2 linked regions of the Homo sapiens genome follow. The protein of the gene in region 1 purifies or fractionates together with the protein of each later gene. This does not show direct contact. Each region holds a gene or a part of one and is shown in the gene's direction. Other genes may lie near its edges.

Evidence for each region. The genes of interacting proteins can lie anywhere in the genome.
Region 2: the proteins of PNISR (region 1) and EPB41L1 purify together in Homo sapiens (co-immunoprecipitation; one large-scale study listed by IntAct). This does not show direct contact.

What each region holds. Positions count from the first base shown.
Region 1 is NC_000006.12:99,407,508-99,413,107, reverse strand, and holds part of PNISR (arginine/serine-rich protein PNISR), read left to right. Parts: intron 1-368; coding exon 369-557; intron 558-789; coding exon of another isoform or gene 790-794; exon of another isoform or gene 795-2,143; coding exon 2,144-2,367; coding exon of another isoform or gene 2,368-2,391; exon of another isoform or gene 2,392-3,762; intron 3,763-3,763; coding exon 3,764-3,935; intron 3,936-4,836; coding exon 4,837-5,027; intron 5,028-5,600.
Region 2 is NC_000020.11:36,185,570-36,190,306, forward strand, and holds part of EPB41L1 (band 4.1-like protein 1), read left to right. Parts: intron 1-2,106; coding exon 2,107-2,194; intron 2,195-2,777; coding exon 2,778-2,930; intron 2,931-4,707; coding exon 4,708-4,737. UniProt on the Homo sapiens protein: May function to confer stability and plasticity to neuronal membrane via multiple interactions, including the spectrin-actin-based cytoskeleton, integral membrane channels and membrane-associated guanylate kinases.

The sequences.
Region 1 (5,600 bases):
TGATTTTTTTTTTGTAAAGGTGATGACATTTAAAAATTCAGTAAACTAAGATGCAGGGGATAAATTTTATATGAATTAATATTAGAAATGGGTTAAGAGTGTTTTTTGTGGAGTTCTTTCCTGAAAGTGTAAGTAGTTTATATTATTTTTTAGCCTGAATATGGGTTATTTGCTAAGTACCCTTTCAGACACAGTATGCTTTAATATTTAAGATCTCATTCAAAAAAAATTTTTCTAATTTCCCTCATACCCTCTCTGTCTGAAATATTTAAGATCTAAGGAATAGTTGAGCTGCTTATTTTACATAGAGGCACTATTCTTTTAACTCCTACATTCTGAATGCTGAAGTCAGTGTTAATTTACGTTAGGCCAGATTGATTGGGCTGCATTGGCCCAAGCTTGGATTGCCCAAAGAGAAGCTTCAGGACAGCAAAGCATGGTAGAACAACCACCAGGAATGATGCCAAATGGACAAGATATGTCTACAATGGAATCTGGTCCAAACAATCATGGGAATTTCCAAGGGGATTCAAACTTCAACAGAATGTGGCAACCAGGTTTGTTGTTTATGTTTTCACAATTTTAAGACTTTTAAAAAACAGAATGAAGATTATTATTAAATTTTTTAATTTGCTTAGTTGTATGACTTCTGGAAATTAATGCTTCTTAAAGAATAGGCAGTTTTCAATTTGATTTGACTTTGACATTTTGTGGTTAAAATTATTCTGTACTCATTCTGCTAGCTTTGTGGCACTCAGTTTGATTCTTTTCTTGGTTCTTCATTCCTAGGCTGACAGGGGCTGGGAACACTCTGGAAACCTCACTTGGCATCTAGGGAAGAGAGCATTCTTTGTCTCTCTATTGCAACCTCTGGCCTTTTCAGAAGCAGCACTGGCAGAGTAAAACATGTCTAGCCTCTAATTAAAGAAAAATTGTGTCACTGTGTGACAAATTAGTCTGTCAAATATACTCTGCCCCTACCATCCGCCTACCTTTTTCTTCCCTTTTTTTTTTTCAGATAGTGAAGATCTTTCATAAGTTTTTGTGTGTTTTACTTTTTTGTTTGTTTTATTTCACAGTATGATGTAGATTTCTTGATGCTAATTCAGTCTTCCATGGCTTGTGTTATTCCTTTTTAATAGTCACTTGAAACTATGGAGGAATCAGCCTCTCATTTGGGTATGCTGATGGTGAAGTCATAACCTCCTTTCCCTATTAATACTTTTTGTTTCTCCTTATAAGAATGGAGACCTCAGTCGAGACCAGCCTGGGCAACATAGCAAGGCCCTGTCTCTACAAAAAAAAAAAAAAAAAAAACCTTAAAACTTAGTCAGGCATAGAGGCGCATGCCTGTAGTCCCAGCTACTTGGGAGGCTGAGGTGGGAGGATTGCTTGAGCCTAGGGGATTGAGACTGCAATGAGCTGTGATCACGCCACTGCACTCCAGCCTGGGTGACAGAATGAGTCCCTCATTTAAAACAAACAAACAAAAAAAACGAGAATTCAGATTACTTTTAAAAACATAAATATTCTAGTCTTTGATACTGTGAGGTGGTTCATTTCTAGCTTTCTTGAAAGTGAAATTTCCCCACATTTGAAAATGTTTTAGTTCCTAAGTTTAAGTTCTTAAATGACTCCCGCGGGCATCCCTACCCCTTAGTTTTACTCTACTTTGTGACCCTGGGCAAGTGATTTACCTCTGTGTGCCTCGATTTTCCCTCCCGAAATTGGCAAAAATAATACCTAATTTCTCCCTACCTCACAGGGATGTTGTGAGGATAAATGTGTTCGTGTAAGAAAGAAATTATATAAAACCTCAAGGTATTATTTTTGTGGTGTTGTTACTAAACAAATATAAAAATTCAACAAAAATAGTGCTTTGGATTTTGTTACATTTGTTAAAAATAACTTTGGGCATTTGGTTAGGATATGAATTAGAGTGGAGTTAGCTCATTTTGAATTATATATGACAGTTTAGTTCATTGCTTATTTTTAAGATAAACAAAAGGAATTTGACCAAGAAGTCATAAGTTGTTTTTTAAATCTGTATGTTTACTGAAAAATCTTTCTTGAGATCTTAAAATTCTGTGTTGATTTTGTTATAACCGCCTGTTGAATGTTTTTATGCCTAAATCTTAAATAGAATGGGGAATGCATCAGCAACCCCCACACCCCCCTCCAGATCAGCCATGGATGCCACCAACACCAGGCCCAATGGACATTGTTCCTCCTTCTGAAGACAGCAACAGTCAGGACAGTGGGGAATTTGCCCCTGACAACAGGCATATATTTAACCAGAACAATCACAACTTTGGTGGACCACCCGATAATTTTGCAGTGGGGCCAGTGAACCAGTTTGACTATCAGGTGAAAGATATTTTGTTGCTTTAATATTGTAGATGTGCACGTAATCCATTCTTTGGAAGTGTCTCATCAAGAATACCTAAGATACGTGTTTCACTTTTCAGACTTGTATAAATAAGCACATTCTGTCTCAGTTATCAATTTTTGAGTATTAAAATAATTAGAATTTGTTTTCTGATTTTTTTATTTCATTAGGAAAATGGTATAAAAGATCATTACGGAAAACTTTTGAAAAAATTAAAAATGTATAAGTGCAATAGCTATATGATGTTTTATTTTCTAATTTATATTTCAAAATGGTATATTTAAATGTTAAAGACTAGAGAATGCACAGTAATTGAATATAGCTCATGGTTAAGACATGAATAAAAAATATAGATCATTTTCCTAAGTGTAATTCCTTGTGCTATGTAGAATTATGACTGTTTTTCTAGTGTCATTTTTTTTCCATTCTGACATGACATGTTAATGGAATTGTATATAATTTCCTCTGTAGCATCCAATTCATTCCTAGGGACATAGAACTCTGTGGGGAATAGTGTTGTATGTTGGGCTTTATTTACTTCATTCCCTCTGCCAGGGTCTACCCTTAAATTATAGTGCTAGGTGTCATTTTGAAATAACTGATTGCAATTATTAACTTATAAACTGCTATCATAATTTAAAATTTTGAAAGAATTATTTCATGAATTCTAGGGTAGATTTGATAATGGACATCTAGTATTCACCTTGAGATGGTAATCCTCTCATTAATAAATATTCAGATACTTGTATACTTGGTATACAGATACAACAGTTTTTATGTTGTTTGAAGAAATATAATGGCAGGGAGCATCTGCTTACCCTACTTTTGCATGGTAGATCCCATGTAAACAAGACAAAGAGCTGTATTGGCAGCTGGCCTAGAAAAGCCTCTGAAAATAGCAAAATTGCAGAAAATATTTAATGATTCATTAACTTCTATCTTTGCTTATAAATGAATATATCTGCAAGATTATAGAAACAGCTTAAGTTGTTTAGTTCACTTTTTGTTCACTGTAAGTAGGATGTTGAAATTGACAAAAATGTCTAGTTAAAGAGAAATTAGTATCTATTTGATGTCTTAGTGTTGGTAGGATTAGCTTGTAAATGGATTCAGAATGAAAAATTTCATATACTTCTTGAAAGTAGCTTATCAGCTGGCTTTTAGAAGCCTCTTTGCATTTACATAGCCGGAAAATCTTAAGACAAGTAAGCCTAGGTTCTTGGGACCATAGAAGTATCGGTGGATATTAGAGCCATGGAATTCTTGGATGTGCTGCACACATGGATTTCTACTGTCCCAGTTCATAACACACGTGTGTCCCAGAGAGTATATTGTATTAATTTGAAGAAAAAATAAACTGCAATACTCTTTCAGCATGGGGCTGCTTTTGGTCCACCGCAAGGTGGATTTCATCCTCCTTATTGGCAACCAGGACCTCCAGGACCTCCAGCACCTCCCCAGAATCGAAGAGAAAGGCCATCATCATTCAGGGATCGTCAGCGTTCACCTATTGCACTTCCTGTGAAGCAGGAGCCTCCACAAATTGGTAGCTATTTAACTTAGTTTAGTGGACCACAATTGGCATGACTTTTTTATCATATAAAAAGGATGTCTTGTTTTCTTAAAATTGTTTGAGTATCTCTGATGTGTTAGGAATTGACACTTTATTTTTTATGGTCATAAAGCTTAAAATTACAAAAATGATACTGGTCTGAAATTAAAAGGTTTAAATAATTTTATTTAAACCTTTACATTAAATTCCAGATTTTGTGATGAAGTGAAAATTTATGCTAGCCATAGCATGTTGGTATTTTCTTCAGTGTAGGCATTTCAGTACATTATACAGATATATGAGCCCTTCTCCTTTTAAATCTAATTGTTCAATCTCTGTCCACTCTTAGTTCATCTGATGCACTGCTGTCAGATTAATTTTCCTCTGGTTATTTCACTTCCCTTAAGTATTTTGGCAGAAAATTTCAATTTTTTAAATAACATTATAGAGCCAGCCTATTTCAAGTGACAAATACATATTTATGCCACTTTATATCTGGAAAGTTCTAAATTGTTCAGTATTTAATGGACAGGAGCATTTGTTAATAAATCTTTACTTTTTACATTTTAGGAAGATTCTAACTTTACTCCTTTTTTAACTTACTAGCAAATCACTTAATTTTTTCGAGTCTCAGTTTCCTCACCTGTGGAAAAAAGTGGAGTAATAGTAGTGATCTCTGAGGGCTTTTGTAAGGATTAAATTAGATGATGGTTTAACATGCTTTCATTGTGTCCTGGCAGATTGTAAGCACTAGAGCAGTGGTCCCTGCTGTTACTAAAAGTGATGGCATTGAAGAAAGGCATGATATTTAATGGGATATTTTTTAAATTTACTCACAAGTTTGTAGAAATATTTTACTTAACTGACTTGCGTATATTTTTCCCACGTGAAACAGACGCAGTAAAACGCAGGACTCTTCCCGCTTGGATTCGCGAAGGTCTTGAAAAAATGGAACGTGAAAAGCAGAAGAAATTGGAGAAAGAAAGAATGGAACAACAACGTTCACAATTGTCCAAAAAAGAAAAAAAGGCCACAGAAGATGCTGAAGGAGGGGATGGCCCTCGTTTACCTCAGAGAAGTAAATTTGTAAGTAGAATCCCCAACATGAAACTCCATGTGAAAATCTTGGTTGTGTGAAAACTTTACTGAAATAGATATTTTAGCCTATAGGAAAGTATTAGAGTGATGTTCCTAAGATTACGTTCATTAAGTATATTGAGGATTCTGATTTTATATATGTGTTACTGAAGATACAGTAAGGAGAAAATGGGACAACAAGTTTATAAACACTTCATTCCAGAGAGCTGGCTAGATCTTGATAAACAATCTGTATTCATTCATTGTGGTACAGATGACTCCCTGGTGATAGATTATAAAACAAAGCTACATTAAAATAGTAATAGAGAAATAAAATCTCCCTCTTTTGAACATTTAAACATATACCTGAGGATGTAATAATTTTGATTGTTTTTGACGTGAGCACTGGAAGTATAACAACATTTTAAGTCTTCAAATCTTCCTCAGTTAGATGGCTTGAGTGGTTTAGGAACTTTTTTATTCAGCAGGTATGATAGCCACAGCACTGGCCAGTATGCAACTCAGGAAATTTGTCTGTCTTGCACGGCCATTTTCTGCTTTAGAAATAAGTCTCAAGAAGAG
Region 2 (4,737 bases), on another chromosome or scaffold:
TGATAATTCCCTGTCCTTGGCCTCTGAGAATAAGTTTATCTGCCAACTGGAGAAAATAATCGCTACTGTGTCTCTGAGTAAGTGTCCTCATGTCTAGATCTTGGTGTAGAGTTCAAAAGTTTGGACCCGAAAGCCAGCCTGCTAGGGTTCCTATACTGGCTCTGCCACTTTCTAACTAGAGGATCTCAGGAAGGTCATTTCACTTCCTATGCTTTGGTTTCCTCATCTGTTCAAGGTGGATGCTGTTAAACCCACCCTGTAGGATTGTTGGGAAGCCTAAATAGCACATATTAAAGGCACACTGCATGTTGGCTGTTAGTGTTGCTGTCTGTGGATCGAGGGGTTGAACAGTTGATCATGCAGGGGAAAGTACCTCGTTCCAGCAGTTGGACGATAATTAACTAGTGTGATTGTAGGCTGGTTATTTAACCTATCTAAGCCCCATTTTTCACCTGTATATGCACAAAGTTAGATTATCAGTGTCTCTCAACTATTGGCATTTGGGGCAGGAGAATTCATTGTGCAGAATGTTCAGCATCCCTGGGACCCAGTAAATGCCCATAACACCTTCTCAGTCCTTGTAACAACCCAGATACTCCCCTTTGCCATTGCTTCTGTACAGGTTCCCCTGGAGAGGAGCCCTTGGAACTAAATGATTTGTAGGGTCCTTTTAAGCTGGAAGTATTTGGGGCTGTAAGTCCAGGATTGTTATGGGGACTCAATATAATTAATAATGTGAAGGTGCATTATAAACTGTAAAGTGCGGCACCCAGGGAAAGGAGTATGGTGATATTGTCTCATTACTATTGAGGATGGAGGGAATTAGGAGGCCTTGGTTCTGTGGGCGTTATCTGGAGAGGAGGGCTAGAGTCAGATGTGGAGGGATCGTGTACGTGGGGAAGAGCCTGCTGGGGTGTGATGAATGCTAGGTCAAGGGTGGCAAATGCTGTCTCTGAGAGTCGCACACTAACTCCACTTGGTTAATAGCGACTGCTGTGGTGTTGTGTTGAGTAGGACACTGATTCCCTACAATGCCCAGGTTAGCAATATCCACCTGGGCATAGGAATAGGGAGTAGTGGCCTGCCTGCCATCTATTTGTCATCCCTGTCCTAGATAGCAAGACATCTTAGGATTTGCAAGAGTCATAATAATTCAGAGAAAGATGTTCAGATCAATATGGGCTGGAGAAATACTAAGGGCTGTCCCTAAAGCTCTTTGGACCTAAAGCACACTGACATCTCGTGTCCAAGTATCCCACACAGCAGCCCAGAGGTAGACAGGTCACAGGAAACTGAGGCCTGGAGGATACACAAGACCTGTAATGAAGTGATTAGGAGCATAAACTCTGAAGTCACATTGTCTAGATTCAAATTCTGACTCTTCTTCATAGCAGTGTGACCTTGGACAAGTTACTCAATGTCTCTGTGCCGGTTTTTTCATCTGTAAAATGACAATAATAATAATACCTATCTTACAGAGTTGTTATGAGGATTCAGTGAGTTAATATGTGTAAAGTGCTTAGAACAGTAACCAGCACATAGTACTCAATAAATGTTTGCTGTGACTAAGTATAAAATGTAGTCCAAGTTTCCTGGCAGCCAAAGCAAAGAAGGAACTTGATTAATTACATAACTCTTCTTTTTGGAAAGGAGAATGTGCACCTGTTCCTTAGGAGAGATTAAGTGGCTTCTGATACTAAATTCTGCAAGAAATATCCTGTGTGGGTAATAATTTAGGAGCCCCTGGGTGATGATAATGAACAATGTCCGTAACAATGGTTTTACAGTCATGGAAAAGTAGAATTTATAGCTCACAGTCAACTCAGTGGCAGAATGAGGCAAAAATCCTGACTCCCAGCTCAGCCTTTGTATGATCCCTGGACTAACAAGACTGGACTTGAGCTTTGGCAGAAGTTGGGGGTTGGGTGGGCTGAAGTGGGAGTTGGGGTACACCCTCCTGCTCTGAGGGCAGAGGGAAAAGATTAGGGTGAGGCTCAGCATATTTGACTTTCTAGAATCATGGGTTCTGATGGTGGGCACCTTTGGACAGCAGGACTAAACCTGGGCCTTTCCCTTGGTCACCTGTGATCACTTTCTTTCCCTCAGGGGGATGACCCCGGGAGAAGCAGAAATCCACTTCTTAGAGAATGCCAAGAAGCTTTCCATGTACGGAGTAGACCTGCACCATGCCAAGGTACCACCAGCTTCCTGGGTTCCCCTAGTGTCTGGGTGGTGCCCCCAAAGAACTATCAGGCCTTTCCCTAGGGCGTGGTGTGCCAGACCCTGTGTTACCTCCAACTTGAAACCTTTTCTGTTCTCATTCTCATTTCTCGAAGTTCCATAACCTTTTATTTTCTCATGATCTGTATTATTTTCTCCATGTATTTTATTTATGAACCTGTTTGAGCCACTGCTAGATTGGGAGCATTGTGAGGGAAAGACGTAGGCCTTAGTTTATTTCTATATCCCTAGCACCTGGCACATAGCCTGGCACCAAGTGTGTGCCACTAAATATTTGCTGGATGAATGAACGATTGAGTGATTGACAGAGCAAATGATCAAACAAGTGAGTGGGTGAAAAAAATACCTAAATGGATGAGTGAATGACTGAATGACTATGGGAGGGATTGGTCAGTGGGACTCCAGCATGGAGGCTCTAACCCTGTTCCTGAGAGCTCGTTACAAGCAGCGCACAGGGCAGTGTTTTCGGGGTGGGTGGTAGGCTGTCCCCAGGCATGGACCCCGGGCCTCCCATTCCATGGTCTCTTCTCATGCAGGACTCTGAGGGCATCGACATCATGTTAGGCGTTTGTGCCAATGGCCTGCTCATCTACCGGGACCGGCTGAGAATCAACCGCTTTGCCTGGCCCAAGATCCTCAAGATCTCCTACAAGAGGAGTAACTTCTATATCAAGATCCGGCCTGGGGAGGTGAGTCTGCCTTGGGAAACACTCCTCCTCACCGGAATCAACTAGAATGGAGTGGACCCTGGCAGCTGGGCCTGGACTGCCAACACACACACACACACACACACACACACACACACACACACACACACACACACACACACACAGAGAGAGAGAGAGAGAGAGAGAGAGAGGAGTCTAAATAAAAGTATAACCACATATGGCCAGGTGCAGTGGCTCATGCCTGTAATTCCAGCACTTTAGAAGGCCGAGGAAGGTGGATCACATGAGGTCAGGAGTGTGAGACCAGCCTGGCCAACATGGTGAAACCCCGTCTCTACTAAAAATACAAAATTAGCTGGCACTGCACTCCAGCCTGGGCAACAGAGCAAGACTCTGTCTCAAAAAAAAAAAAAAGGGAGAAAAAAAAAAGAAGAAATATAACTACATACATTCAGGTCACACAGATAAATGAATACATGTCTGTGTAAAGTTCATGTATTTAGGTGTTGTAAGTATGGAAGTTTGTACACATTTTAAGATACACAGACTCGACTATACATACAACACACACAAATGCAAACATGTATATGTCTACACCTCTTTTCCTTCAATTACCTACATCTCACCCATCAAAAAGCCCATTTGGTTGTACCTGTAGAATAAACATGAACCCATTTGCTTCTCTTCCTCTCCATCACACCCGCCTCCAGCATCCCCCATCTTTTGCCTGTGCCTATGAGGGCCTTCTCCCTCGCCTCTGGTGCTCTCCAGGTCATTTTCCTCATAGCTGCTGGAGAGATCTTAAAAAGTCCCTTAAATCAGATCATGGCAAGCCCACTCCCCCTTCCCATCCACACCCTTGCTTACACCTTTCAGGAACTCTCTTTAGCTCTTGAGCTAAACTTCAAACTCCTTCCATGGCCACCTACCTCTCCCACCTATCCCTTGCCACACTGCCCCATGCCCAAGGTGCTTTAGCCTCTTCGGCCTTGAGATCTTTGAATAAGTCGAGCTCTTTCCTGCCTGAGTGCTTCGCATTTGATGTTTCCTTTACCTGAAAGTATCTCCCCCTCTCGCTTCTCACATAGCTGGTTCCTTCCCATTCTTCAAATGTCAGCTCAAGATCACCTAGATCTAGGTCTAGAGGGGATCCCCTGCTCTTCCTTAGATGACAGGAGCCCCTATGCCTTCCCAGTTCTGCTGCACCACACATCTCCCTTCATTCCCCTTGTAGCCCTGATCAGTGTCTGCAATTATCTTGTTTGCTTATTTGTTATTGGAGGTCCCCTTCCCCTACTAGAATCTTCTGCCTTGGTCTCCATGTATCTCTAGTGTTTAGCACTGGACCCGTCACAGAGTAAGGGCTCAATCACCCTTATTGATTCAGTGAATGAACAGGCCAAAGTCGCAGATGCCTGAGAAGAGTTCAGAAAGAATGACTCACGTCTGTAATCCCAGCATTTTGGGAGGCTGAGGTGGGAGGACTGCTTGAGCCCAGGAGTTGGAGACCAGCCTAGGCAACATAGTGAGACTCATTCTCTACAAAAAATTAGCTGGTGTGGTGTCGTCTGACTGTAGTCCTGGCTACTTGGGAGGCTGAGGCAGGAGGATCTCTTGAGCCCAGGAATTCAAGGTTACAGTGAGCTATGATTGCGCCACTGTACTCCACCCTGGGCAAATGATCGAGACCCTGTGTCTCAAAAAAACATTAAACAAATAAAATAAAAAACACAAAGAATGGGCTAGTGGCGAGAGTGAGCTCAGGCCCTGCCTCTAACCTGCCCTTTTGGTTTTCCAGTATGAGCAATTTGAGAGCACAATTGGCTTT